Linked DNA regions of Homo sapiens: region 2 is linked to region 1. The links come from fine-mapping of genetic effects on gene expression. A gene starts in region 1. The other region holds a variant in brackets. All regions are shown on one strand. Distances are between the middles of the regions. Region 1 holds the start of ETAA1 (ETAA1 activator of ATR kinase). Region 2 has its middle 81 kb from the start of ETAA1.

What was found. PIP is the estimated chance that this variant, and not a neighbour inherited with it, causes the effect.
Region 2: its variant is fine-mapped to the expression of ETAA1 in lymphoblastoid cells (GTEx, PIP above 0.99).

The regions. Positions count from the first base shown.
Region 1 is chr2:67,388,253-67,403,979 of GRCh38, reverse strand. ETAA1 (ETAA1 activator of ATR kinase) reads right to left here and starts at 6,647. Exons shown (of 6, transcript NM_019002.4): 1 at 6,309-6,647; 2 at 4,683-4,811; 3 at 4,354-4,430; 4 at 1,006-1,118; 5 at 1-755. The coding sequence starts at 6,531.
Region 2 is chr2:67,308,340-67,324,066 of GRCh38, reverse strand. No RefSeq gene overlaps it. Among named protein-coding and RNA genes, the nearest start is that of ETAA1, 81 kb to the left of the region's middle. The variant A/G (reference allele first, on the strand shown) is at 8,745.

The DNA.
Region 1 (15,727 bases):
TTGTATTTGCTCTTGACGTATTTTTAACAGTTTTACTATTAAAGGTACAAATTTCCTTTTGATCAGTAACATGGGCTGTTTTAGAAGGAAAGAGTTCAGGCATGTCGATATTTTGCATAGCAAAAGGTTCACTACCTAGTAAGTTTTCCCAATCATCCTCAAAATCACTTGTAGTAAATGCATCAATGTACTTATTAGAAGTTTCTGGCTCCTTAGTACAGGAAGTCACACATGATTTTGTCATTATGGGTGTATCTACTTGAGAAGAAAGTGATCGTGGGGTTTTATTTGACAGTTTTTCAATGACCAGAGTTTCATTAGTAATGATTTTCTCCTCTTTCAAAGCATTTGTCTTTACAAAGGTAGTATTACTGGTGCTCCAAAAAGCCTCTGGCAGTTCTTGGCTTAACTGTCCGCTACATTTCTGAGTAGAACCATCAAAAATAGCATTAAAGGCTGCTTCAGCAATTTGGTCAAATGGCTTCTGACTGCTATTTTGATTATTTGCCACAGATATCTTGGTGTTTCCTTTGATTGGCTTTTTTGTAGCATTATCTATTTCGGGAACTATATTATGTAATGACCACATCTGTATATTATCTTTATAATTACTTAAAATCTCTGTTTCTGAAATCATCTGGGTAAAATCATAATTCCTCTTGTTTTGCTCTTGAATCACATCTAGCTCTTCCATATTTTTATCAAATTGTTTAGCCAGTTTCATAAGTTCTTCTTCTTGACTTTGTGTTTTTAACCTATTAAACAAGATTAAAAAATAACTAAAAATGTTCTGAAACATTATATCCAACTGTTATTTAACATATTTTGATGTTAAAGCTCTAAGATTTTAACAGTTATAATTATTTTAACTCCAAAATTTGATAGATCAAAACTGTGGAAATTTTATTAACAAAAATTTTGATATATTCACAAAACCAAAATGGAGTATTATCAAAAAATATTTGCTTCACTGAATTTCAGAAAAGCTGAAAAGTCTTAACTTACTTTGTGCAGCTGATTTTTGCTCTTGATTTTCCTTTTGCTACACTGGGAGTACAAGGAATAGCAGTTTCACCAATCCACATGTCCAGCATAGAATTTGTTGTTGGTTTTTCATCCTTTGGCAGATAGGGAAAAAAAGAGGTATAAAGTACCAGTGTAGCATCCCCCGTCTTCCAAAAAAACAAAAGAAAGAAAAAAGACAATAAAAACTAATGATTTTGAATTAATTTCCTAAATTCTGGTGAGGTAACACTTACCAAACTCAAAAACAATAGGAAGTTGGGAGATAGCAATAATAAGCTACAATAATTGATCCACTTATGTTTCAGAGAATGAAAACATTCAGAATTACAAATTGCTTATTTTAAAAAAATATTGTTTTAAGAATTAAATTTATCAAATGTACATTTAATAACAGAAGCATGTTTTTATCAAAAGAAAATTGACATTTTAATTGTCCTAAGATACTTATAAAAACATTAGTGTCAGAAACTGTGTGGCAGAAATCATCAGAATTGAGAGGAGATACATATGGAATTCTTTCTGTATCATCTGTTTCTCCAAATTTTCTTTATCCTTATTATAATCTTTATCTAAAGTTGGACAATCCATGTTGACCTAAATTAAGAACACTCAGAATTAAGATCAGGAATGAATTAAGAGATAAGAGCAAGGTTAGAACTGATGCTAAGAATGAGACAGGAATAAGAATAAAAAAATAGAGAAAACAGAAAAGTTTAGCCCAGATAATATACAGAAAAAAGGCATTTTAGACCTGGATACTTTTGCTGTACCTTTCAGTCACTTGATCACACAAAAAAATTACAGAATGAGCTTTAGGCATTAATTGCAAACCAAACCAACAAATCAAATCAAGTAACCATTTTCACTCTATTTTATAGTACCTAGAATGAACATAAATATCACACAATTTAAAAAATAATTTTACTACTAGATTATAGGCTACTCAAAGGCAAGGACTCTTCTTAGAATAACTCAGCATCCAGCACAATATTGGGCATACCAGTGTCAGTATACATTTATTTACTAGAAGATTTAGGTGAAAAGATCCCTACAGTTTGGTACTTCAAATCCTCAATGAATCAAAAAAGTTTTCTTAATGTCAACTTGAACCTAGTTGCCTTTAGCTTTGCAAATACTCAAGAAAATCAGTAATTTCACTTTCAGACTCAATATATTTTCCCTTTTATTTCAACAATCTTGAATTTAAAGACAATCATAGTCTTAATTATGAACTCTGCCATTTACAAAAGTAATTTTAAATTCATTCAATTTTCAGAGAACTAAATTATGACTTTATGTACCCAACTTTACATATACATGGGTCCTATGTATGTTTGTATACTATTTATACATGTTATTACATATTTCTTCATGAATAATTACATAATTTATTGATTTTCAACCATAATCCAGGTGCTGTATAAGGTATCTAAATGCATTACTTCATTTCATTATAAAAAGTATACTGTGCAAAGCTGTATAAATGAAGATACATACCATCTTCAAATAAACAACATTGTATAAAAGTATCCCTGCAAAAAGTGAACTGACTGTCCAACCAAAATAAAAGCGCATATTTAAAAAAATGCTATCTCTGAAAATGTTAAAACTAAATGATTTGAGAATGACTCACCTAAAAATAAACAATATAAGTATTTGTCATTCTGAGAACATGACAAGCTTTCAAACAGACCTTGAAACTGCTAAAGATTTATATGCTTTAAAAGTACTCAGTTTAAGAGGGTAACATTTTAAAGCTACTAATTTCACTATATTTTTTTCTTTTATACAAGTTACCACTTGCGTACTGTTGTCATTTCTTTATATGAGCTATTATTTCTAGCCCACTTAGGTAAAGAGTCCAATAATTTATTCACAACTATCTTTTTATCACTATTTAGACTGGCCCACCCAAACACATTTTATTATGCTTCTTTCATGTGAAACCCACAATTAATGAAGATCTATTGTTAACTTATAGAGTAAGTACTATTATGGCATAAATGCTATTTAACTAATTAACTGTAAGTAAAATGAATTTCTATGACATGCTAAAAATGGAATGTAGAGCTAGTAGCAACAGAGTTGTTTTGACTGTGCTAGGTGTAATTTTGGATATTTTATAGCTGCTAAGAAAAACTTCATTTTCTGTCTCTTCCACCTGGGTGACAGTAATTCTTCAAACCATGTTTTGGGCCAGTGCCATCTATTGTTTATGGTCAACATATAGTAACTATTCAAGCGCAGGTTAAGGAAAAATGGCATACTTCCTTCAGAGAAGACACTAAGCAAAAATGTTCTCTGGATTTAAATGTTAAATAAGAAAAAGAGAACAAAAAGTAAAGAAGTTCAGAACAGTTTCACGTATTGAGCCTTTGCTTCTTAGTAATTATAATATTAGAGTTACTGGATTGCTTTGTGTCAAATGATTGACTTGAACATATTTCTATTTCACTCAAACAATAAAAGAACAGAAATGAAAAAAAGAAACGAAACACTCAAAAAAAAATTTTTTTTAAGAGACAGGGTCTTAAACTCCTGGCCTCAAGCAATCTTCCTGCCTCAGCCTTCCTCCCAAAATGCTGAGATTACAGGAATGAGTCACCATGCCTGTCCAAGAAAAGAAAAAAAAGCTTTGGAGATGGTTCTATTACAGTAACAACCTTAACGTAACCTTACAATTATAGCACTCTATAGTTTACAAAGAATTTTTATCTAGTTTAATTCTCATAATGATCCAATGAAGACAGCAAGAGCAACACAATAATTCTAGTTCATGGCTGAATGAACTGAAGTGGTGGGAGTTTAAATAACTTGCACTGGGTCACACAGCATAGGAGGTTGAATGAGGACTAAATTTGAATTCAGTGCTCTCCACTTTTGTAAGTGTTTCTTGATAATCTTATAAGGAAATGAGTATTAATAGTTTCAATGGGGAAATGTTACAGACAGGAAGTACCAATCACAAAACAATCATAGAAGTATAAACTTTTTTCACTGCCTTATTCTATTATTTTAGCAACTTGAAAAATGATGTCGTATGTTGTTAAGCACAACATTACAGATAAACACAATGCCCTAGTCAAAAATTACTCTAAAAAATTAAAACAAGATATATACTTAAGAAAATATCTTGTATTTTATATTATATTCCTTTTTTCAAAATATGTATTTCAAAAGTAGAAAAGGCAAAACAGTAATCTTTGCTGCCTTATTTTTGGAAAAAAGAATTATAATAGACAATACTTTTCATTTAAAGAAACTACAAAAACTTAGTGGCACATTCTTCACTGTTTTAAAACAAACTGTAAAACTAGTGATATTTACCTGAGGAGCAATACGATTAACAATATGTGAAATCTCATCACTATCTGTGGTGTAAATCTGTTTTTTTCTTCCTTTACCTAAAGAAACAAAGACATTTCTATAAATTTTAAACAAAAAACCCTCCATTTTAAAAAACAGCTGTCACTTCTTAGAAAGTAATTTTATTTAGTGCAGCTTAGAGGATTATGTGTTTACATCACATACTTATACAGATAAAATCATATAACATTCTCAGAGGTTCCCGATGCTATTATCTGACTAGAATTCTAGTTAAATCTGAATCATTTATCAAATATTTACTCACATAAAAAATGTTAATAATTAATTACCTAACTGCTTTGTCAATGGAGAATTCTGATCCCAAAAGATATCATTCTGTCCATCTGGATCATTAGGAGAACTGAAGGAAGATGACAGTGAGTCCATTTTCAGCGCTCTCTTTGGTGTTTCATACCTTTCTATATAAAATATGAGTAAAATAACAATTGTTGCATTTTAAAGCATTACCTTACTTCGTAAGACCCCAAGGTCAAATAGCTGAGACTAACTTTTATAGTCCAAGATAATTTTTTTTCCCAGAGATAATTACCTGAACCGTAACAGAAATGCTTGTTTCACATAAAAATCCACGCGGCACTTCGCAAACTTCACATTGTAAATAGCAAACACTTCTAGATAATCCAGAAGCTTTATGAATGCATAATACAATACTGTATAACCTAAGTCATTCTATTTATTACCATTGAGTCTTGGAGGCTTTGGGGAACCATCTGTAATTTATAGGTACATTCAAAAATCCAAAGTAACCCAACAGAAACCTAAATATGTTTAGCCCCCTTTCACCAACTCTATCTAATCTACATTAATTGCCATTCTTCAAAAACCATTAGTGATCCAATGCTTGGGAATTTTTGTCTAGAATCACTTTCAAATTTTTATAAAGATTTTTGTTCATTCCCAAATTGCTTTATAGGAGTATTATTAAAGACATGTAAGGTGGCCGGGCGCGGTGGCTGTAATCCCAGCACTTTGGGAGGCCGAGGCGGGTGGATCACGAGGTCAGGAAATCGAGACCATCCTGGCTAACACGGTGAAACCCCTGTCTCTACCAAAAATACAAAAAATTAGCCGGGCGAGGTGGCACACGCCTGTAGTCCCAGCTACTTGGGAGGCTGAGGCAGGAGAATCGCTTGAACCCGGGAGGCGGAGGTTGCAGTGAGCCGAGATTGTGCTACTGCACTGCAGCCTGGGCGACAGGGCGAGATTCTTTCCCAAAAGAAAAAAGACACGTAAGGTATAAAAAAAAAAAAAAAAAAAAAAGCACTATTTCAAGAACATGCTCCAGAATAAAGGCTTTTGTATGAGTTTCAGTTCCAACTAAGATTTACTAGAAGTCTTTTAAAAAGTAACACCTAAAACTAATCGAGACGAAAGAGATCCTTAGTATCTTATTTGGAGGGATGTTACACACAGGAACTTCCGGTTTATTCACAATGAGGTGAGACATCTACCAGGCTTTGAGACAAACTTTAACTTTTCCTATGAACTCTTCTCTAAAGCAGGTCACAGGGAAAAAAAGGGTTTAAAGAGAAATAACTTCTCCGGGCAAAAACTGAGGTTAGCGGGCCTATCAGCTGTTTCTTCTCACTCCACCACTGCTGCTGACTGGAGGAGCAGCCTGGAAAGCAGCCGCCCTCCCGCAAACAGGTAAACCACATTACCTATTCCTGTGGCGGAGGCAAATGGATGGTCAAACCTAACGGGGTAGTGCTGAAGTTCGGGGACAAAAGCCCATCGGGGAGTGGTATAGGATTATTTTTGGACTCTCGAGGGGTGAATCCCAGAGACAGAATACACGCTCCAGACTCCACCCCCACCCCAGATTTCCCTGTTGCAAGCTGGGATGTGGGGATGCGGCGCCGAAGCCAAGGCAGGCCGCGCTGCCGACGTCTCACCCTCGGGGTTACTTTTACTGCACAGGGCGGCGGTCGGAGGCTGCTCTCGCTGCCGCACTGGCCCGGGAGGCCCCTCTCTAGCCCCGCAGGGCCACGAACCGCGGGCCGATCTCAGCCGCCTCCTCCCTGGCTCGACCACCGAGCCGCATTCCTCCGCCGCCACTGTTTTGTGCGGCGTTTTCTTCGGGCTAGGGCTGTCATCATGTTTCCTTCGCCGACTCATTGCCTATGGCCCGCCTCCACCAGCCGCTTCTTCTTTCACATTTTGCAAAGGGATGAGTAGGGCAACAGCACTACAAACCGCACCCCGCACCAACGGCAGCCGCCATTTTGGTCGGTGGGGCGCGCGCAAGAGGCGGCCGCTGATTGGCTGGGTCCGGGAGAGGGGCGGAACTGTTAAGGTGCCGAGGGCGCGCGCACTTCCGCAGCCGGGACAGGAGCCTGCTCTGGAGGAGTGTCTAGGCTCAAAATCCTCCAGACTGGTGGGGGTTGTTCGGGTAGTAGTCAGGTCCGCGTAAACTGAGAGTGGGAGCTTGTGAGTTGGAAAGATTGAATACACTAGCAACTTTTTATTGAATTTACAACGAAAATTGCACGTTAGTCAAATTCAGATTATTGAGAGTCTTCGAATTTCTCAAGAAGAGGAAATACAGTTAATTTTTCATAGATGCTATGTGCATAGAAAAATCCAAAAGAAAGTAGAAAAAATTACTAAATTAATTTAAGAGTTGCTGGATACAAAGTCAATATTCAAAGATCAATGTGTTTCAATAGATTAGCAACAGATATAAAATTGAAGTTTTAAAGAGATACTATTTATAATAGTGCATGAGATAGCAAGTAACTAGGAATAAGTTAAAGATTGTCCTTCCTACAAAGAGAACTATAAAACATTTTTGAGGCCGGGCGCCATGGCTCAAGCCTGTAATCTCAGCACTTTGGGAGGCCGAGGCAGGCGGATCACGAGGTCAGGAGTTCAAGACCAGCCTGACCAGCATGGTGAAACCCCGTCTCTACTAAAAATACAAAAAATTAGCCGGGCATGGTGGTGCGTGCCTGTAGTCCCGGCTACTGGGGAGGCCAAGGCAGGAGAATTGCTTGAACCTGGGAGGCGGAGGTTGCAATGAGCCGAGATTGCGCCACTGCACTTGCAGTGAGCAGAGATCGCGCATCTGCATTCCAGCCTGGGCGACAGAGGGGGACTTCGTGTAAAATAAGTAAATACATACATACATACATACATACAAAAATTAGCCAGGCGTGGTGGCGGGTGCCTGTAATCCCAGCTACTTGGGAGCTGAGGCAGAGAATTGCTTGAACCTGGGAGGTGGAGGTTGCAGTGAGCCGAGATTGCGCCACTGCACTCCAGCCTGGGCAACAGAGCAAGACTCCGTCTCAAAAAAAAAAAAAATTTTTTTTTTGAAAGAAAACGAAGACCTAAATAAATGGTTACACTATGTTCATGGGTTGTGAGACTCAATATTGTTACAATGTCAGCTATTTCCAAACTGACCTATAGATTCAACATAAATACATATGAAGGCCCAGTGTGTGACTGTGTGTGTGTAACATGGTAAGTTTTTTCTAAAATTTATATGAAAATGCAAGGGACCAAAAATATCAATAAACTCTTGAAGATCTCTCGAAGAATAATGAGGGTTGATATCTACCAGGTATCAAGACTTATATGGTAATTAAGACAGTGTTATGATGGTGTCAGGATAGACAAAGATGAAAGAAACAGGATAGCACAGAAACAGACTTCCATATAAATGAACACGATTTAAGACAAAGGTGACCCTTCTGAGCAATGGTAAAAGGACTTTTGAAATTAAATAGTGCTTGGTCTATTTGATGTTCATGTAGAAAAAGAAAGAAACATGACCTTTACCTCAAACTTTATCCCCAAATCAGGTGCATATATATTCATTATAAATTTAATTGTAGAAGATAAAATAACATTTTAGAAGGTATAAATTGTCTTCATGACAGAACGCATTTGAAATAAAACAAAGGTCACCAGGCATAATTATAAATGTGACTACACAAAATTGATAATTTGAGAACTTCTGTCCATTCAAAAACAACATTAAAGAGAAGGAAGGGCAAGGCACAAATTGGGAGAAAATATTTATAAGACATATTTAAGGGCCTATATATAGGTTATATGAAGAACTGATACAAATCACTAAGGAAATGATTGACTGTCAAAACCAAAAGTGGATGAGACCCTTGAGCAGGATCTTCACAAGAGAAAATATTATCAACAAACTTATGGAAAAATCAGATTCATTTTTAATCAGGAAAATGCAAATGAAAACCATATCAGAATGGCTAAAGTTAAAAAGACTGACAATATAGGTATTGAGGCAGTAAACCAATGGAAGCTGTCACGTACTGCTGGTGAGAGTATAATTTGGCACAACCACTTTGGAAACCAGTTTTTGATCTAGCAATCCCACTCTGAGGAATATTCTCTGTTTAAATGCATGGACTTGTTCATCAAGATACAGTTTATAAAAATGCTTTGGTGGGATGCAGTGGCTTATGCCTGTAATCCTAGCACTTTGAGAAGCCGAGGCAGGTGGACTGCTTGAGCCCAGGAGTTTGAGACCAGCCTGGGCAACATGGCGAAAACCCATCTCTACAAAAAATACAAAAAATTAGCTGGGCATTTTGGCGCATGGCTGTAGTCCCAGCTACTAGGAAGGAGAATCACTTGAGCCCAGAAGTTGACTTGCTGTGAGTCATGATTGTGCCACTGCATTCCAGCCTGGGCAACAGAAAAAAAAAAGAAAAAACAAAGAAGAAGAAAAATGCTTTTAGCAGTAAAATTCAATTCAAAATTACTTCATACTGTAAGTGGACCAAATGCTTTCCAACAGTAGAATGATAAATATATTGAACTATATTCACACAACAAAATAGCAATGAAAATGAAAACTACAACTCTGTGCGACAACATGGATAAATCTGACAAACATAAAGTTGAGCAAAAAAAAGCTAGACCTCCCAACCCTCCTCCATAATGTTAAATAAATCCCATATAAATTCCATCAGGCAAAGTTCTACTATATTGTATAGGGATGTAAGCTTTAGTGTTAAAATGATAAAGAAAAATCTAGGAATGATTACCATAAAGGTCAGGATAATAGTTACCTTCGGGAGGGGGAAGGGACAGTGATTAGAAGTGGACAGAGGGAGGAGAGAATTTCATGTATTTATTGGCTTTGTTTATTTTCATGTTCTAGTTGTTAATTACAAAAGTATTTGCTTTGTGGTAATCTACTGAGCTGTACATTTTGTTCATTTTCTACACACATGTTATATTTATCAATTAAAATGTTTAAAATGTTAATGTAAGGCAAAGATCTTAGTTCCTACTGAGGAGCTGATATATTTCTTCTATCTTGTAAACTATTCTGTTTTTACTCTTTAATTTTGCTGACAGAAATCCTAGAACTAAATTTGAGATTCAGGGCTAGCAGTTATATAAACCATATAAACCGTTGTGAATAGATAATTCCATTATTTTTCCTCAGTGTTTGACCTTCTACTAATACTTTTTCTTTCCATGATTGTTTTTTACCTACATGTATTTAAACCATTGTTTAGTTTTATTTATTTATAACCGGATAAGACTGGAATACAAGTGATATTACATCTTTTAAAATTCAAATTAATTACTTGAACCTTCACTTGTATAAATTAGCAGGAATATTACTATTTCTCTCAGAGATCTCTCCTACCTCTCAAATGACCAAAAATCCTAGAAGCATTAAAAAAAATGTAAAAAGAACTTAATTTACCAAATAAATATCCAACTCACATTTAGAAAGTAATTAAGGAAGTTTAAAGAATTTAGTGATGTTTATAAGAGAAATAACCATGTAGTAATCCTTTAAAGCATATTAATGCTGCAAATAAAATAACAGTGAATACTTTACCATAACTCCAAATTCTATAGTGCCCAAGTAACCATTGCTGAAATGAACAACTTGAGCCTAAAGTACAGACGTGTTGTCTTAACACACCTAGGATGGCTGTAACCTGTAATCATTATGGGGTAGGAAATTATAGTAAATTTTAACTTGAAAATTACTTACTTTACATAATCTGTTACATTTCTAAGTGTACTTCAAATTAAATTTACTTCCTGACTATAGCTCCTGAAATAAGTATAACACAATTAACTCCTTAATAAAATGTTTTTAATGTGAAACAAAAGTCTTACAGATGTTTGAATGCAATATGATTCATAGCTCAGCATTTCTAGGCATTTGAATAATTTATACATATAAGTAAGGTTTACTGCAACTAAAAACTGTAATAAACCAAAGTGAAACTCTTGCTTGTTTCACTTACAGGGATTATTTATAAACTTGACAATAATTATTAAGGCAAAAATTGTGACACTGAAGGTCTGAGTTACTAAGGAGCTTCTCTGCCAGTGATTGCCTCCTCACTTACATTACAACGATGGGTCAATGCTACTGATCAATGGCTAACTGTGAGCAGTCTTCCTTTCAAGAAAAAAAAATCCATAATTATGTGAATTATGTTTGTGTTTTATATACAGAGCTCCAGCTCCAAATCTGTGAGAGTGCATTTGGCAGAATCTGAACAAGCAACACAATGATTAGAGGGTTTTTGTTTTTTTGTTTGTTTTTAACAGTTTTGTTACAATGTTTCCACCCCAAAATGTACCTGGGTAAGTGCTGGGCCCATTTTTCCTTATTCCTGACATAGCTGCAATTGTATTAGCTAGAACCACCTATTATGCCTAGCTGCTCCATCAGGAGCCTCTGCTGCCTAGGTGACCATGTCTGGCCAGACGGGCCCAATCGGGTAAAAATGACTGGACTAGACATGGGCACCTGATTTTAGGAACCAGTCCATAGCCAGCTTCTCCACCTCTGACTGACACAAAAAGATGCATTGAGACAATCCTATTCTTTCTTGGAGATTTGAACTAAGAATTTGCTAGAGGGCCCTGTGCAAAACCATGGTGGGCAGAAACTACGAAGAAGCTTGCTCAAAGTGGAACTGAAGGAAGTAGCAGAATTATGCAGACTGGGGACCACTGGAATCAACATCTGTTGACTCTGGATACCTTGAAACCCAACCACCATTCAGCTTCAATGTCCGTAAGACCAGATTTTACTGTGATACCAGTCCTTTTTTCTTTCAATGTGAGCCTTTACAGTAAACTTCCTTTGTTAGGTAGGGGCTAGCTAATGCCAGTTGGTCTCTATTTCTTACATCTAAAAAGAAACCTGAACTAAAACATAGAACAAACACCAGAATTGGGTCAAGGGTTGTAGTCTTATTGTTTCTCAATTAAAAGAATATTATTTTTAAAAGTTCAAAATAGAATGAAACAAAATCCCATTTAAATATGGAGCTGGAAGTTAAAATATTTTAGTGACTCCTTTGGACCTGAGACAAATTATACTGGAGACTAGCTGTCATCTGAAATCACTTTTTCTTAAGTTTTTTTGGTTCAATTATTGCATAAAGACCTAACAGTTAGAGAAATAAGGAATGTATTTTTATTTCTCTGTAGCCCCATACTCCTGGGGATGACATTTCAACCTTTGCTCTATCAGTTTCTACGATTTTCTTACCCTCTGAACCTACCAATATACTTTTCTTACTAGGCTCCAGCTTTGAATCAATCATGCTATTTGTTTTCTCAGCTCCTGGGCTGTTATATTGTAAAGATTCTTTACTGCACTAGCATGAACCTATAGTCATCAGCTGAGCTTTCAATGGCACATGACAATGTCACTGAGCAGCTCATGCTTCTCTTCTCCAAAATAGAGATTCCAAATTTCTAACACTTTCTATAAATCCCCTTCCAGCTCAGATTGTTCCTTTTTTAAAAGTTATTTGTATCCTACTTCCTAGAAAAAAAATTGACCTATGAAATATAAAATCCCTCATTAAAATTATGAAGCAGATAAGGATGTCTGTCATATCTAATTTTGCTCAGGGTGGAATATAGCTAGCTTTAAAACCAGCCAACTGACCATGAATCAACTATAGTTGTAAGCCTTTCTTACAGGTAAAGGGGTCCACTTTACAAAGTTTTAAGCTAAAACCCATAAGCAGAAGTCCCGAGGTGGAGCTTCTGGAAAAAATCTTTCTTCCTGATTGAAACAAGGAACTGCAGAGGTCATGATGGGACTATGAGGCCTAAAGCCACACTCTCTAAGGGTAGTAGAACAGAAGAATTCAAGGAGCTGAGGTTCCCAAGGTATCATGCAACCACAGTACCTGGCCTGGGTGGCCTAGCTCTATGCCATCAATCCTTTACCCTTTGATATTCATCAATCCCTTACTTGTTTAAACCAATAATTCTCAAACTAGTAGCATTAGTATCACCTGGGAACTTGTTAGAAATCCATATTCTTGGGCCCCATACTGGGTAAGAAACAGTGTGGGTTTAGAAATCTGAGCTTTTATAAGCCCTCCAGGTGATTTTGACGCATTTTAATGTCTGAGAATCTCTAGTTTATGTCGCTGTCTTTTAAGTCTTCCTAAAGGCCAAATAAAAAATGTATTTTTATGCATATATGGGGCTAAAAAACTGGCTAGCTTTAAAAATGTAACATTTTAATTTTTAATATATTAACGGCTAATATAAAAAAGTAAAAAATTTGTATAACAAAATAAAATACTTATACCGTGGTATGGAAGAAAAGCAAGTTATGCATGTCGTATCTACTATTCATATGCACATGAGTATGTGCATATACTCCCAAACATTTCAAATGAAATATTCCAAATATTGACTATACATTATCTCTAGGTAGTGGGATTTAACTAATGCTTGTTTTGTTTTTTTTTCTTCCAAATTATCTACAATGAAGATGTATTGCTTTTAAAACCAGAAAAATATGCATAAAATATTATATATGAAGCATGCAAATGATAGATTTAAGAATAGACACTAGGTGAGACATAAGGATTTAATTACTAAGGATAAACTTAAGAGAAATTGTACTAAAAGCTCATAATGGGATAAATAAAGTTGCAATGTTTTTTGGCAATCGTTCTACAGTACCAAATATACTCCCTGGAATCTTCACTACGATCAAGATAATGAACCTATTCATCACCCCCAGAAGTTTCCTCGTGCCCCTTTGTATTACTTTTGTTTGTAATAGGTAAGTTGACATATTTACTTTTGATTCATGGCTGTGTTCGACAAGAAGCTTGCAAAATTACTCGGGATTTAATAATCAGCTCTTACAAGCTAGTATGAACTGGCTACAGCACACCACTGATTCTGTTACTGCTCATTCTCCTTTCTCTAGTTTAAGTAACTTCAGTTTCTTTGACAGTTCCTCATCTTACCTATGTTTTCCAGGCTTTCATCAATTTTAAACCTCTCAATTCAGTGGTTGAGCTCAGACCTGGACCTAGAGAGACCTATACTTTAGGTTATAGGCTTAAAAATGAAGCCTATAAATGCTTGGGGCAGTTTACAAGGGCTGAGAAATTGGAGGTTGCTGGGAAAAGCAGCTCTACTATAGAAAGGGTCCCTTTCTAAGTAAGTCACCCTTGGGAGTTCAGTCTGTGAATGTCAGTAGAAGGATGAAGGGAAGCAGGTTACCCAGTTCTGATGTGGGGCATACTATTGCACACTGCTTTCTGCAAGCAGCACTTAGTAGCACTAATTGAATCCAACCCCACTGATCATTTCAGATACCAACCCCCATCTGGCCTATATCTACTCAGGAATAATGGCTGTGGGTGTCATAGAGGTAATTTGAAAGACATTTTCCTCTACTGCTTTAAGTGAAACCTCAAGAATATTTTAAAAAACCCTCAGCAGTCCCAAAATGTCTTATTCAGGGTTAATAACTTTCTTTCCACTGGCCATAATGGAATTTAGTCCTCATTTATGTGTTCTTGCTTTTATGAATCCCAGAAAGATGGCCTGATTTTAAAGCTTGTCCTTGACTCTTCTTCAAGCAGCAGGATCCAGATCATTCACTCTGCCACCATAATTTTAACATAAAACACTCCTAAACTGTGTCTGAGACGATTACAAATTTCTTTATCTTGCAGTAAAAGTAAAATCTCAAAACTTTTACAATTCTTAATAGTATTTAGGTTACCCTAGCCAAGTGCAGGCCTAGGAATGCTAGGAATGTCCTAGATGCAAATAGTTTTTTGGTGAATGGTTATTTATGCAGAATATTCTGGCCCAAGCTGAAAATGGCTTTTGATTGTTTAGAAAGGAAATTACAGCATTTAAAACATATTAAAGTTTAAAATAACATTTTTGAGCAATTAGGATATAAAAGAATAGATGGGGAAGAAATTAGTTAAATTGCAAGACCCGTAAACAAAACTAACACTACTCATTTCAATTCAGTTCCCAGCCTAAGAAAATTTTCATTTCAGCAAGGCTTTTCCTGTCTTTTAGACTACTGGAAAAAATGGTTGGTTCATTTCACATGAAAGTAATGGACCCTGGCTTTGGTCTAGTATTAATAATGTAGATGACAGTGTGAGGCAACACTGGGTCTGGGGGTTATTCCATTGGCAAATATGTATGAAAAACACAGGAATATTTATTCTGCTGAACTATTTTTATAAGCCTGTTATGGCTTCTAAATCATCAAGAGGAAGGTTCCTTTACTTGCTACTCTTCACATTTCCAAACCCTCCCGGTCTTTGAATAGTTGTTGCTGTTCAAAGTGTAGGAGTATATGGAAGAGCAACATGGATATCACCTGGGAGCTCATTAGAAATGCAGAACTTAGGCCCCAGACCTGCTGAAGCAGGATCTGCATGGTAACAAGATCCCAGGCCATTCACAATCACAAGAAAGTCCCACAGGTGACCATCTGCAGAGACTGTCTCTAATAATTTTGGCCCGCAATGTTTAATGCCTCTTTTCTCTGAACTTTTACCTTACCTTCTGTCTGCTCTATATAATTTAGCAGTTGATTATATGATCTTATGTTTCTTAATAATTACTGGAGGTATGCAAATCTTATTTACAAGATTATGCAAGTCTCTGTTACGGAGGTTTGCAATCAATGCTCATTATTCCATTGTTTGTTAAAGCCCTATTCTATTCCTTTCTGCCTTATGTTCCAAAACATTTTGAGGTCAGGTTTAGGAAAAATTATAAAAAATTATCCTAATATTAATAAAAGTAAATACATGCTTTAGAAAGAAGCTGTTAATAAGAGTGGAAGACTGTAAATAACTTCATATATAGTTTTTGTTTTCTTATGAATGCCAAGACATGAAAGTAAACTGTGCTCTTGGCAAATGGTTTAGAATATAACCAATCCTTGATTTTTCATTAAAATCATATCTGTAGCCTGTAATCCCAGCACTTTGGGATGTTGAGGCAGGAAGATTGCTTGAGACCAGAAGTCAGAGACCAGCCT
Region 2 (15,727 bases), 80 kb after region 1:
GTGCGTTTGACTTTTTAGGTTAGTTCATAAAACAGTTGCAAAGTTCTATATCTAAGTAGCGTTATTGCGATCTTATAACGGCAGAACTTGGGGATAGGCAGTGGAGTGAAGTTCAGAATCTTGGGCTTTGTTTTCTTCAGTCCTTCTACAAAGTTGCTTAGCACAGATACTGAACTCTTAGAGAAGTTACAATCATTTTTAATCCGTTTCTTCACAGTCTGTTTTTTGTCTGGATTCTGTTGTACAGCATAACAGATAAGCAGATCCCTAATGAGTTCAGAGCCAGCCAGTTAGTTCCTGGATATGTTACAGGTCCTTGTTAATCCAGTTAGGTATAGCAGGTTACTCATTTTTCCCATTTCTGCCCTTCACCTTGCCCTCCACTAAGATTTCTAATTTTATTGCAGAAAGATCTACCTTTTAGCAATGAAGAAATCATTATTATTTTTAAAAAGCAATAGTGGTGAGAGTAATTCTAGGCAAAGTATTACAGAAAAAGTAAACAGCATGAGATGGTGGTTCTACGATTCCCTACAAGACCATCTGTTTTCCCAATGAAAAATCTAGTGCTTCCTCGAGTTATGTTTTAAAAGGCTTAAGCAATCATTCAGATAATCAGACTTCATTGCTATGAAATTTCATCAAACTGTACTCAATCCTTGAACTCATATCTGGGTCCATTTTGCCAATCAGATAAAACTTCCTAGGCTTTTTCCTAGAGGCATGAGTGGTTAACTTGATCTTATTGCACTGCAAAAGATTTTGTGCTACACATCATTTTTCATAAAAGCTATTTGTTGTGTTAGGAGAACTCCAGAGAGACTGCTTGTTAGAATAGATTTTGGGGGTGGGGGTGGGCCAGCGCTGGTTCTGCTATGTCACTTTGGACCAAATGAAAATTCTTAGAAATTCTTACAAATTAACCTCAGAGGACATGAGGAGGCAAAAAGGTGATACAGAGGAAATTAGTGTCTTGGTAAGTAAAGATGTTATTTCTCATGAACAGACCAATAATTATAAAAAAAAAAAAACCAAAGAAATCTATAATTTGGAAGCACTGAATTCCTTTGTCTTAAGATTGTCACTTGCTTCTTCTTTCAGTTGGCATAGGGGTTAAAGCCACCTGACTCCTTTTTTTTTTTTCCTTTGTAAAGGTCAGCCAACGCATGCCCACTCTTGTCCACATGAGCACAAACAGCCTTTGCGTTGAAAAAGCACTAGGTGGTGCCCATTTTCTTTGCTGGTGAAAGGGCTGGATTCCCCAAGGGAGTCACTCTGGGCAAGTTCACCAGGCCCTGGCCCACATAGCACAGTGCACTTCTCTCACAGATGACCAGGAGCATGGTGTCACAGTCTGTCCCTTCCCTGATGCATCCTGGGGCTTGCCTGTTTTAGGAAAGAGCTTTGATTTGGGGATACAGTGTTTTTACATGTGAGGATAGGAGTAGAGGAGGGTGGTGGCAAAAAGCTTCGAGTGTTCCCTTTGAAAATGAAAGATAAGAGGAATAAAGGCTGCAACACTGCCATCTGCATTTGTAAAAAGTCATAGTATATCTCTGCCAAGGCTCTCCTCCTGCCAGATCATCTGGACAATGCAGTGCACATGCTAATTTTATTTTTTCCCACTTTTGCCTGTAATCAAACTGTGGAAATAAGGCAAATGAAGGTTAATCTTAAATTTCAATTTGTCTCTTCACAAAAATAATTATTTGTTGAATAAAGCATGGCTAAATTGAAGATTTTGCATGCCCATGTCTCCCCCCCAATACCTACCATTTGAAGAGGTGGCTTTATACTACTGAGTTCTTTCCTTTAAAAAAAATCTTATTAGGCACGCTTAACAGATTGTTGCTTTGTGTTCAAGGAGAGCAGATAACTGGCTAAGAAGATTTTTTTTTCCAGAATAATTTTATCCAGGCGATATGCCCATCGGATCTGTTTTAGAATGTAGAACTATTTAGAAAGTTTTTGTTCTTGTAAAGATCTGGTAGCAGCAATTGAGCATAATCATGTTATTGTCATAAAAAGAAAAGAAAAGAATATAACAATTTTTTTCTAGTAGACATATGTCTTGTCTGTCTATAACCTATTCCCTGAAATTTGGCCTAGTAGAGTTAGTTTGTTCAAATATATTTATTTTGTTTTAGAGAAAGCAAGAAAATTGTTTTTTTGAATGCCAAAGAAATAGATTCTTGTAGTAAAATCTTAATCTTGTTTCACAGGTTGGTGAACCATACTCCAACAGAAAGGGGACATAAGACTGTAAGTAGTTTTAAAAAGTTGAACTAAGAGAAAAGCTTTATTATGAAACTATGAGGATTATTTCTGTGCACTGGCTGCCCCGTCATATGTCGTGGCATGTGGCGGGTTGACTGCTCATTAATTCTATTTATATCAGTATGATAATCCACCCCACTGAGTATGCATGTGTTAAAATATTCATAAATTATGTTTATTGTGACCAAATATACATTAAATGCCAAAAGAAGACCATTATTTAAAGACAAAACCAGTCAACAATCAAACAAGCAAAGCCTTTTTACTGTCAGTCCAGTACATTATGTTTTATCAAATTCACATGAATTGCTTCTCCTTCCAGTGCCCCATAAGGAATGTTTATCCTTTGTTTTTAAACTATGCAAAGAAATAGACTTCACTGAAAGGAACAGATTTGGAAAACAAAAGCTGTTACATGATCTCAGACTAATAATAACATCGGCTGGAAGAAACCATCTAGGGAAATGCACTTTTGGCTTCCAAAATTATTTGATCCCTAATATACCCTTGACTTGAATTTGATGGCATTTCATAAAATCATAGACTAAGTTAAATAAAGCAGCTAACTTTTTTTGATAAACTAGGCTGCCAATAGAATTTTAAGTTTGTACATTTTTTGTTTGAAAACAAAAAAAGGATAGTTAAGAAAATCTAGAAGGTTGAGAATTGAGACCAGTAATTAAACTATACTGCGGCAGACCGTTTTGGAACTTATTACTTCCAAATGAAGCAATCCTTAACTACTCTGTTTTGAATGATTCCAGGAAGTTGAAAAAATTGAGGTGATTATTCTTTTTACAGGCTGCTTATGCAGCAACACAGCACAGTTGAAAAGTTTGAATTCCTTGTCAAAATCCAAAGTGGTTTTAGTTAAAATATATTGCCTAACTTACCCAATTCATCATATTCTGAATTGAAGCCATGAAAACATCTAGGATTATTAATTATGAGGACCATACTTCAGATTTAACCAAAATAATGATCATTTTAAAAAGTGACCTGTATGCTGGCTTAATAGTCACTTGTAATATCCTCCAGGAAACTGTTAAAAATTTCAAAACTTAAATTATACTTGAAAGGACTTTTTTTCTAAATCAAAACAATAAGTGAGGAGTAAAACAAAATAGAAAATTCTGAATTTATTTCATTGTCACCATATGCTTATTTTAAAGAAGAACACAACATTTAGAGAACAAATTAAATTTAGAGAACAACATTTAGAGAACAAATTAATTTAGAGTAAAAATTAAATGTTTTTCTCATGTCGCCAATACTTACTATAGGAGTGAAGTCATCACTTAAATTGCATGTTAATTTCAAGTAAGATTTTTTTTTTTTCCTGTATAATGACACCATTATAGAATGTTTTACTTTCTACTTTTCCTTGGAAGAAAAATGTCTTTACTTCTATACAATCTTTTAAGAAACCTAAACAGTATGGCAACCTGAACAGGTATAGGAAATCTCTCCAGGGAAATAATTCAAAATGTGGAAAAAGCCATGTATATAAAAATTTTCTTTATAACATTGTTTATAATAGCAAACATTGGAAGGCATTTTAATATCTAGCAGTGGAAGCTTGGTTAGGAAAAGATGACAACATTCATTTGATGAAATATTATGCAGTCAATAAAATTGGTATAAAGCAGTATGAGAAATATGGGATAAAATACTAAGTTAAAAAAGGATACAAGATGAAGGTGTAGCATGATTATAATAATTTTAACACATGCAAACAAAACACTAAAAGAGGATGCACAAAAGTGTTAATCATCAAATTGAAGATTGAAATGGATTTTTTACCCTCTTTTCATACTTTTATTATGTTGTCATGCAATTTAAAATGCATTTTAAAATTTCAAAATTATTATCAGTAATCAATTTATACTTTTTCTTTAGATGTCATAAATAATCACCATAGATTTTTGAGGGGAAAAATTAGACAACTCCAATTTCCAAAGATGTTAATTTTAAAACCAGTATCCCAACGTGTGGTTTTAGTATTCAAACCTAATTTGATTTCTATGGAATCATAGTGCACTTATATTTTATTAAATAATAATTCCCTCTTTTATTAAAAAAATCCTGCTTATTATATTTAACTCTAAACGACAGCTTTTTCGCCTCTCAGTTCTCAAAAACCCTGAGCAGCCATTTCAGAAAACAAAACAAAAGAAAACCCCACATATCAAAACACCACAAAACCCTCTCATTAAGCTCTCTGCAAAGTTTGAGATGTACTTTCATGTGAATCTTGGCCTCTGTACAGCACTGCTGCACAATCATTTTCATCTGAGATTTGAACATATTGGAAGAACTAGAGCCTTCCTTTCTTTTATCCTGTCATTTCCCCCGCTGGAAGTGATGGGCATATGGCAGGCACCCTCCCTAGATTCTCAAACAACAGGAGGGACCTGATTTCAATTCCTACATCCTGTCATCAGTGACTCTCGGGATATTTTGTTCTTGCAAGGCTAAGGATGTGATTCGAATTTGCCATACGGACAGAGCTTAATGCGATGCCATTTTTACCACTGGCGCCCTCAATCAGTTAATTAAACATGATATAAATCACCACATGTATTTGTTAAGTAAGATTAATATGGCAAAGTCAAAGTAAAAAATGAGGAATCCTCCCCATCCTAGGAGTGTGAATCACTGATAGGAAGATTACACTTTTGGAAACTCAATACTTTTGAGCAGGCTTTGTTGGTTTAATCCCTCAGACTGCTTTGTGCAACTTGAAACCTAGAGCTGTCATCTTTAGCCAAAATTTCAGCCATAACTTCCTCAGCTTTCACCCCATTATTGAAATCAGCATTCACAATACTTAACAAAGATCAAACCTTTCAGCGGACCACGGGGCAGCCTCTTACCACCTGGGACACCAGAAACATGTTTAATAAATATTTCATTTTGTTTTAACATGAAGACTCCCTGGTTTCAATTTTTTTTTTCTTTCCTGGGGAGCTAAGGGCTACCACCAAGCTGCACATTCCGTCACTATGGTCAGTTAGGTTTATAGCCTTAATAAAAGGATTTGCCCCCCTTCACATGCTAGGGAGCCTTGTTAAACCACAGCAATTATAGAAACACAAGATAGGTGCTCTGCAAAGATCAAAGCTCACTTAAAGACAGCTCTGTAGGAATTTGGAGCTCTCTTTGAAAAGTGCTCAGTTTACAAAGTATAGAGGTATTAAACCCTAGGAATTAAAAACTTATTTTAGAATAATGTTTAAAGTCTGACAGTAGTTAATATGGGATCTCCTTCAGTCACTCTTTGTGTATTATTTCTAATATCTATTCACGGCATACCTATAATAGCTCCAAAGGAACCATTACGCTCAGAAGACATACGCATATGATGGATCCTTAATACCAAATGCATTACCTACTCAGTAGGTACATTTTAACCTCAATATCCCAGCTCAGGGACAGGGTAGAAAAATAGCATGTAAATTTCTTTAGGAGGAAAAAAATGCAGCATGCCTGGGTCTTCAGCTTTGTGGCTCAGTGGAATCCCTAGAGGCTGCTTTCCATGCAGGAGGGATAGGTGATGGCCTGTGCTGGGCTGCACCAGGTCACTTTAGCATCTGGCCTTTGGGGCTGCCGCACAACTCACCCAACTCTAATTGGATGTTGAAGTACCCAGTCTTAAGCATTGTAATGTTTCCTCTACCTCTGTAGATTGTATCATTCATCCAGAAACACATACACACACACACACACACACACACACACACACACAGAGTAATGCATGTGGACTCCATTTCAGAAAAAGAATGCTAAACCCCGAGTGGCCTAAACTTAATTGTGTGGCTATGGGAGCTTTCGGGTGACAAAGGGTCTGCAAGCCAAATAATTACTTTTGTGTGCAGCATCTTACAACAGGGCAGTATAAATGGGCTTAGCCTGGGATTTTGAACTCTGTGCTTCAGCCTCGGAAAATGAGTTATTTAAAAGCAGCTATTGCCAGGAACATTTTAATATCTATTTAGAGAAAACTATTTGGGGTTTTTGGTGTCCAGGAGTCTTTAGCTTTGAAACATGTAGGTATAAATGCAAACCCCTCATTTCACGTCAGCATATCCATTTTAAATAAAAGGTTGTAATGATGATAAAAATAAGAGCTAATATTTGTTGACTGCTTGCTATTTGCCAGGCTGTATGCCCAGTACGTTACATGGAGTATTACATTTAATCTTCATGACAACCCTATGAGATAGGTTCTATTATCGTATTTATTTTCTAGACGAGGAGACTGTGGCTCAGAGGGGCAAAGATCACATCACTAGTAAGAGGTGGGGTTGTGATTTTAATCTGGGTTATATGACCCTAGAAGCCACGCTTTTACAGCCTGTTACTATCTGATTTGAAGTTTATTTTGTGCTGTGATCTAAAGTTTCTATTTTATGGTTTCTTTTTATTTAGCTGTAACTTTTAAGAGAATTCTAATCCTTGAAAATAAAGGTAACAGAGTCTATTTTTCCTAATTAGCTTTCTGCTTTTAATTTTAGTGTTAAATGGGTAATGTAACTTCAGGTTTTGTGTTTCTAATAATTTATTTTGGAAAATGCCATACCCCAAGAGTTACCTGAAAGAGTTTCATGATAGAAACTCTTTTTATTTGCCTTGGAATCACCATTTTATAATTAATCTAAGAAAATGCCCTCATTGAAAATAGAAGCAATCAATTATCTTGTTTGCCTTCCCTTTGAATAAAGCTTTTCCTTTGACTAGTTCAAGATTCTGATACGTTGTTTAATGTGAAAGAGATGTTCCAGATTTAGAAGTATTATAGTGCAGCATGAGTCAGATAGGCCTGAATTAGAATCTTGGATTCACCAAGTTTTGGTTCTGTCATCTTGGGCAACTATTTCAATTCTCTTAATCCTATCAGTTTATTATTGGTAATACAAAAAAATAATGCCGATCATACAGTGTTATTACGAAAACTTTATGAAATATATATGTGTAAATATATATATATATATATATATATATATATATGTCTGTTTTCTGAGCATAATAGTTCTATTTCAAGGGCCCCCTTGATGTCCAACTATCAAGCAAAGCCCCACCAAGATGAGTGAGTTCCCCTGTGTTCACAGTTTCAGGCCTTAGCAGACATGGTTAAAGTGCTTCCTGACAATACCAACACTAGAGCTTGATCCAGGCCTCAAAATAAGGCCCTTTTTTCCCAGTAGAGTTCCAAACTGTGAAAACAGTATTTCTGCAGCCTTTCAGAGACGGAGTCTTGCTCTGTCGCCCAGGCTGGAGTGCAGTGGCGCAATCTCGCCTCACTGCAAGCTCCGCCTCCTGGGTTCACGCCATTCTCCTGCCTCAGCCTCCCGACTAGCTGAGACTACAGGCGCCCGCCACTACGCCCGGCTAATTTTTTTGTATTTTTAGTAGAGATGGGGTTTCACCGTGTTAGCCAGGATGATCTCCATCTCCGGACCTCATGATCTGCCCACCTCGGCCTCCCAGAGTGCTGGGATTACAGGCGTGAGCCACCGCGCCCAGCCAAATCTAGATTATTAACACAGTCAAAGGGAAGGGAGAAGAATATATATACATATATATGTACGTAGATGCGTGTGTATATATACACATATATAGAATATTTGTGAGCTATACATATATATGTGTGTGTATGTGTATATATATGAATATATACATAATGCCTCCCTTTGTTGAAATAGCAGGAAAAGTTCCAATTTTAGTTTTTAGATGATAAACTTAGTTTTAAGGATTTTCTATCGAGCTATCTTTTGTGGATTGTCAGATCTCATTTGAACAAATATCTCAACTCACTGCTCGGCAACAACATATGTCATCCTGACCTTTTAAGACCTTGTAACCCACCACTCCAAGATAGGCTGCTTCCTTCCTAGGCCATGGAGACCTGGCCTGCATGTTTGAATAGCCTCTAGCTTCTTACTGGTACGTAATACATATTAATAATCAATCAATCAATCTGCCACCTTTCATAAACACTAAATTTCTTTCACAGTATAATAACACAGTTGACATTATATCAAAATTCAAGACTTTTTGAGAGGTCATTTTTATCTTTGATCTATCTGAATATAAGTTTATAGAAACATATAAGCTACCAATATCCTCTTAAAAGGGACTGTTAATGTAAAAAATGTTTATTCTGCCTTTTGACATATTTTCTGTCTTTGCTTTCTTCACTTTTCATAATCTTTCACTGTCTACATGTAATGCTATCAGTGTCTTTAGAAGCGTTATTCAACTTGTAGCATGGCTGCAAGATAAAGGTCTTTAAAAATATCATTTTAGTGAAGTACGAAAAGTTGGCCATCACTGAATAATGGATCAGGATAATTGTGCCATTGCTTCTTACTCAAAGGTTCACCTATCCTACCAGAGTCTGGATGTATGGAAACAACTGGTGTTTAGTCAGAACATTTGCTTTCCTTCTGGGGTTGCCAGATTTC[A/G]CAAATAAAAATACATAGTACCAAATTAACATAGACTTTCAGATAAACCATAAGTAATTTTTAGTATAAATATGTCTCATACAATATTTAGGACAGACTTATACTAAAATATTATTCATGGTTTATCTGTCGTTCAGTCTAATTGGGCTTCCTGCATTTTATCTGGCAACTGTATTTCTTTTACCTCTTAAGTTAATAAAATAACAAACTCAGTCTTATTTCCATTAGCTCTTGTGGGATTCAGTACCATGCCATTTGATGGTGGTGGGAGGAGAGACCTGCCTTTGCATAAACACCTGGAAGACTTGGAACCAGTGGTTGAGAACCAAGTCAGAAGAGATAGTTTTGTAGTCTGTATATCAAACAGCTATAAAGCCACAGTTTGTAATTCAATTTTCTAATTTGCTTTACTCATTTCTCTTAAAGACAAAAGTGAAAATAACTCTTTTAAAATTGTATAGAAAAGCAGACTGCCTATGATATTGTTCATTATTTATTCCTTCATTCATTCATTCAAAAAATATTTATTGAGGGCCTACTATGTGTCAGGTACTGCATGACAGTTATAATAATATTTTTAGATTTATGTTATACTTATGTTCAGGTTCAAGGGTATTGTGTGTACCTGGATATTAATGGTGCCTGTTTTGAATAGCAGTGGTTGTAGATGTCTAAGTCATGCTTCCTGCCTTCTAATCAAACAGCAACAGTAGACATCATCTGTACTCCTGACAACTAATAACATATATTTTGTTAGAAGTCTTTTGGTTTTGCCTCGAAAAATAGCTGTATACTTAGGCGACGATGTTGTCAATACCTATAGTTTTATAGCTAGAGCTATATCTTTGAAAGGTCCCTGCTTTCCTATAGCACTAAGTTAAATTATGATTCATTCCATATTTTTAGAAACCAGAAGGTCAAAATATTGTTTAGGTATATTGCTTCATCTGCCATATATAAAAAAGACTCCTATCAATTGCCCTTCTTAATTTTTAAGTCATTTTTACCCATTTTGAGGTTATGGAGTATCTTACATGTGTTTGATTGGATTCAGTCAAATAGGCTGTACAGCTTTTACTATGCCTTGTAATTTTTTTCACTACAATAAAAAGCCTTTTAAATCACCGCTACTTAGAATTATATTGAAAATACTTGTGATACTTTTATATACAGTGAGTTTAATGCCAGGATGTGAAAGCAAATTGATTGTCAGCAATTCTGTGCTTGAGCACCCCGGAGTAAAAAGAATTACACTAGTAACCCTGGGGACCTCCTGCTCTCAGAAAGACTGTCTGCACTCAGACATCCACTGGCAGGTGAAAAAGAAGGGATTGCCTAATTCTTGTCTGAAATTCTATAAACACATTTTAATTCAGAGAAATAATTTTTGAAGGGAGAAAAAGCACCTCAAGAGACACTTATGTTTAACGTTTTTAATGTAGTAAAATGAGCTGCAAGGAAAGTATGTCATCTTTGCAATAAGCATTTGAAGATCTTCTAAGAGTGACTTAAAGGTAGACAACTTGCCATCTGGAGGTTGTGTGGCTGTGGAAGGCTTGGCTAGATCAGCAGATAAAACCCTCATGGACTTTTTACCTCTGACACCCTGGTCAGAGTGAGAAGTACTTGGGGCTTTTAACAAGAGTCTCTAATGACACATACCTCCATCAGCTTGAAGAGCAGCTGACATGTTTTAGGAGTGACCTTAGACTGTCATGCAAGCATTAGAGAGAATGAATTAATATTTTGGGGAGGGGCCTTTGGTCAGGATTATGATCCCTGAAGAGTCACTCTTGATTCTTCTTTCCCAGATCTTCAAGGTGAAATGTTCAGGAAACCAAAGGGTTATTGGCTTTTCAAGTATGCAGAAAGCAGATGTGTCAGGTTTGATTTCAGAAGGCAGACTAGCTGCATACACTTTTTCACTCTCTCCCACCCCAAGCTAAATTTGACTGGGACAAATATTGAGGAAGGGGACAGAGTGGGAAATAAAAGGCTAAAGTGTTTCTGCTGACATGGGCCGTTAATATCTGAAGAGGTCCAAAGGGAAAATCTCTACAGGCTAGTGGGACTGGAGACAATATGGTTCTAAATGGAAGTCAGACCTCACATATGCAAGCAAATTGCTATCAAGGATATGGCCTTGAACAACTTTTTGGGGGAAACTTGTAACACATTGGCCACAAGCACTCATTGGAAATGAGGCCTCTTACCACCAGTTCCCTTAAAAAGGATGTTTTATCCAAGACATTATCTTGAGTTCTCACACCAGCCCTGGCACAGCTCCACAATGTTTAGAGAGGCAAGACTTGCAGAGAGGGTAAGACTGCATACCGTAAGCCCCACAGCTTATCTTCTAATCCCAGCTCAGTCACTTATTAGCTGTGCAACTTCAGGCAAATTATATAATCTCTCTATGCCTCAGTTTCTTTATCTGTACCATGGGAAGGATTGAGTTAATACATATATAGTCCTTAGTTACCATCATCATATGCATCTTCCCTTGCTGGATATGAGACTGGAACACTCAGACTGGGGGTTATTTTTGCAGTCATATATGTGCTTAGAAAATAAAAGTGTATAAACATAGATAGACAATGAGAGCATTTTTCAAGGGCATTTGTCAGAATGATGGCTCCTGACTGCAGTGAGGTTCTGACCATCAGCATAGGCATGTTTTAAAGTGTCATGTGTAAGTGTTGTACAAAGATGAGTCCTCAGGAATCATCTGGCCCAACATCTTTCTTTTATGGATAACTGCAGTCCACGGAAATCGGTCCTGAGCCAGGTGTTGGCAGTGCCAGGACTAATTTCCATGTCCCCTGTCATCCAGTGCAGAACCCATTCCATGACACTGTACTAACTTTGAGTCTTTGTTGCAAAGCAGATTGTCTAGTCGTTATAAAGAAGCCCATCTTACCATTTTTTCTACCTGAAAAATATTCCCTCTTGTAAGTTTCCTGATCCATTCTCCAGATTATCTATTTGTGTACTCTGAAAACTGTCTGCCAGAACAATGAGGTTCTTTGCCAATATCTAGCCTCCTCCAAATAATAATGCCAATCATCCTATCATTGTTTAGTTACAACAGGCCTTGCCAGCCTTTCTAAAGGAGGATTGCTAAATTGTTTTACTTATGGGCTAAACTTGACATTTTTGTCTTTTACCATTCTCAACATCAATTTTATTCTTTCACTTAGCAGAGGTGGTCAATTTGCCTCAAATACACCTTATGAATTCTCACTGTGATAGCTTTGTTTATGCTGTATCTCTTATCCAGAATGGCTTTTATGCTCCTACCAATCTTACAAGATCCCACTCTGTTACCTTTCCCATGGAGACATCATTAAATATTCCAGCTGTTAGCTGAATCAGATAAGGGTTAATGCCACACTTCGTTTTGATAAACTGGAGCCAGTAAATATCCATGAAACTTCACTATCCTTTTATGAATATTGCTCAACCTAGACCTCTGCTCTTATAGGCCAGAGCTGAGTATGCTTCTACATGCAGTCTTACCATCTGCATCTGTGGACTAATGCAACTTCTTGTTGTCTGGTCTTCCTGAGAATGCATTATATAGATTGCAGTTCATTTAGAATGCAGCTGCCAGGGTCGTGACTCACACAGAGATTAATCATTATGCCTGGGTTAGCTTCATTACTTTGACTACCCATTACATCTTGCCAAGATTATAAAATGTTGCTTTTAACTTACAAGGCCTACACTAGCACCCACTTAGCTCCAAGACACATATTTATGCTGTTTTCTTTTGTATTATCAGGTCACTGGAAATTGCTGCTATTTCCCATAAGCTTTGACTTCAAAAATTAAGTCATGCTGAAGCTTTCTGATATCAGATTGAGTAACATATCTAGAAAAGAAAGTATATCACATATTTTATTATAAATTATATAAAAATTTATAGGGCATATATAAAGTGCTGCTGTGAAAATCTTAAAGAACCAAGTATTTGTTTGACTTTTCTTTAAAATAATAATGTCATCACAAAAAAATTAAAGATTGTCCAGCAATTGTAGAGTTACTAGTTAAACTATTGCCACACTGGTGCAAGCCATCTGTATCATCTGTGGTATTATTTAGTTCCTTTCATCATTTGATTCAACCCAAACCTAAAAAAAGAAAAGGATTCTGAAAAGAAATGTTGCCACTTCTCCCAGAACACAGTTAGCATAAGTGGAAAAATAAAGGAAAAGACATTTTCCAATAAAAATTGCTGCATACATTTAGTTAACAGAAATTAATAAGAACTACCAATAGGGGTGAACTGTATTAATTTCCCCAGATCTATATTCATGTGAAGTCTTCACAGGAACAAAAAGAAAGAAGGTTAATGTAATAAAATTTTTGAAGGACAATTGTAGAAGTGTGATTGGTATACTTCTCCAATTGTATTTCTTGATGATTATATTTTAAGGGAGTTAGAATTAAATCTTAAAATATATGTGACATATATTCAGACTTGAAGGGAAAGTAGAAAATTGAAGATGTGGTAAATGGTTATGTTTAAGAGCAAAAGGTCTGTATTAGAGTTTCATCCTTATATGAAATTTTGCAGATCTTGTTTTTGTAGTGGGAACTTAAATCTATCTGTGGTACTTGGTGCAGGTAATGAGGCTGAACTTGTTATTGATTGATCTCAAAATTTTTGTGAAGTCTTTATACAATATGACTGCCACGTACTTTAGAAATATATAATTACTAATGACAACAAAAATATAGAAAGGATTTGTTCTGTGCCAAGTTTTATTTCAAATACTTTAGATATAGTAATTTGCTTAATCCTCACCACAGTTCTATGAAGTTGGTATTATTGTTATCTTTATTTTATAGATGAAGAAAGGAAGGCCCACAGAGGTTAGGAAACTTGCCCAGTTACATAGTTTATAAGCGATGGCACAGGATTCAAACTCAGCTGATCTGGTGCCTGAATTCATGTTGAGAACCACTGCAATATACTATTTTTTGGAGTCAATGTAGGGAAACATGGATGATCACACCAAAAATTATCATTTTTGATAATTTTTGAAAAAGGTGATTATTATCAAAACAACAATTTGAAAGTGAGAAGTTGAAAAAATGGTTTTGATGATTTATTGATTGAGATCCAGTGGTCAAATATCTTCTACTAAGAATCAAGGTCCATCCCTTGGTCTAAAATAGGTGACTTATTTTGATAATAGATAGATGCTAAGTGACTTAGTTTGGTGGGTAATGGAGAGCTTTTAGAGTAAAGAGTCATTTGGAAGGTAGTCTGAAAGCATTCCTGCAATCCCTCTCATATGTCCCCCAACCCCAAATCTCTAATAAACATTTTGTCAAAGAGTAGAAGAGTTATTTAAACTTGAACATATATAAAATTAAAGAACAATGAGATCTTAATATCTGTGATCATGTGAATAGAATGTACGTCTTGACTGTTTTAAACCAGCAGAACTTGCAGTAATCAACCAAGCATTATCCAAAAAAAGCAGCTGAAGCACTGAAAGAAAAAAGCATGCAAATTCTTATTCCAGCTCTGGAATCAATATGTTCCATGGATTCAATAATATTAGACTTTCTTCATAGTTTCTTGGGAACATTAAAAAGAATTGTATACAACAGTGCCTTAAAATCTACAAAAGAATCATTCAAAAATTTTAAACTGTTATTAAGAAAGCCAATGTATTTCTCTAGTAGTGCGAAATATTCTCTTGTGTTGTTCTTTTCTGTGCCATCAGATTGTAATTTGCTTGTGACCAAGGACATTTCCTTTTTTATTTACTCACCATGACTCAAATAGAGCTTTTCACTCAAGAGGCCTTCAGTATGTGTTGGACAGTAAATATAAAAACTGGAATTTGGTCCTGGTTGCTCAACATGCATGAGGTGCTTACTGAGGAATAAGAGCTGTGCTAAGCATAGAGACACACAATAACTTAGATGTGGGCCTTTTCCTTGAGGGGCTTAGTCTTGTGAGTTCCCAGTAAAATACTGACCTGTCAGGATCATTGGTGTGGAGTCTGCCAGTCATCTCATAGATATCCTCTCCAGTGTCATATTCTTGTTAGAATCACAGTTGTGTGTCTCACCCTCAGCCACTAAATACTGTGAATTGGTGAAAACATCTGTCACACTTCATTTAGAGACCTGCTAAGTGCCATTAAAAAAATTAAAAACAACCTCCTTAAAAATACAAAACAAAGCAGTAAAACATCAAATCTCACAATAATTTGATATCAACTTATAAAAATTGATGTAAAAATGCATTCTGAGTATTAATCTTTCTTTCCAGAGAAAGGGGAAAGACCCTAGCTACAATCTTGTGGACATACTTGCTTAGTCATTTGTATTGTTTTGCCAAATGGAAAACACAGCTAAGAATTCTTTATTTATTTATTTTTTTTCTGAGATGGAGTTTCACTGTGTTGCCCAGGCTGGAGTGCTGTAGCACAATCTCAGCTCACTGCAACCTCTGCCTCCCAGGTTCAATCAATTCTCCTGCCTTAGCCTCTGGAGCAGCTAGGATTACAGGCGCCCACCACCATGCCCGGCTAATTTTTGTATTTTTAGTAGAGATGGGGTTTCACCATGTTGGCCAGGCTGGTCTTGAACTCCTGACCTCGTGATCTGCCCGCCTTGGCCTCCCAAAGTGCTGGGATTACAGGCGTGATCCACCGCACCCAGCCTAAACACAGCTAAGAATTCTTATTCTTACTTTTTATGTTCTTGGTTTGTATCCCAAATGGAACATAATTTGGTATTTACCATTAGAGTGATTGTACTTGAGGCAGATTTGAAAACATTACATTTATAACTTAGCTTAGAGGCTTTCTGATAAATCATACATCAGCACTATGGAGCTGAATACAGTTCAAACAAGTTAATTAGGCAGAAGAGTGTCAACATGAACCTTTTTTCCAATCTGGATTAATAGAGCTTAATGAAAGGGGGAAGAAATAATCATTTCGTAGTGAGTTATT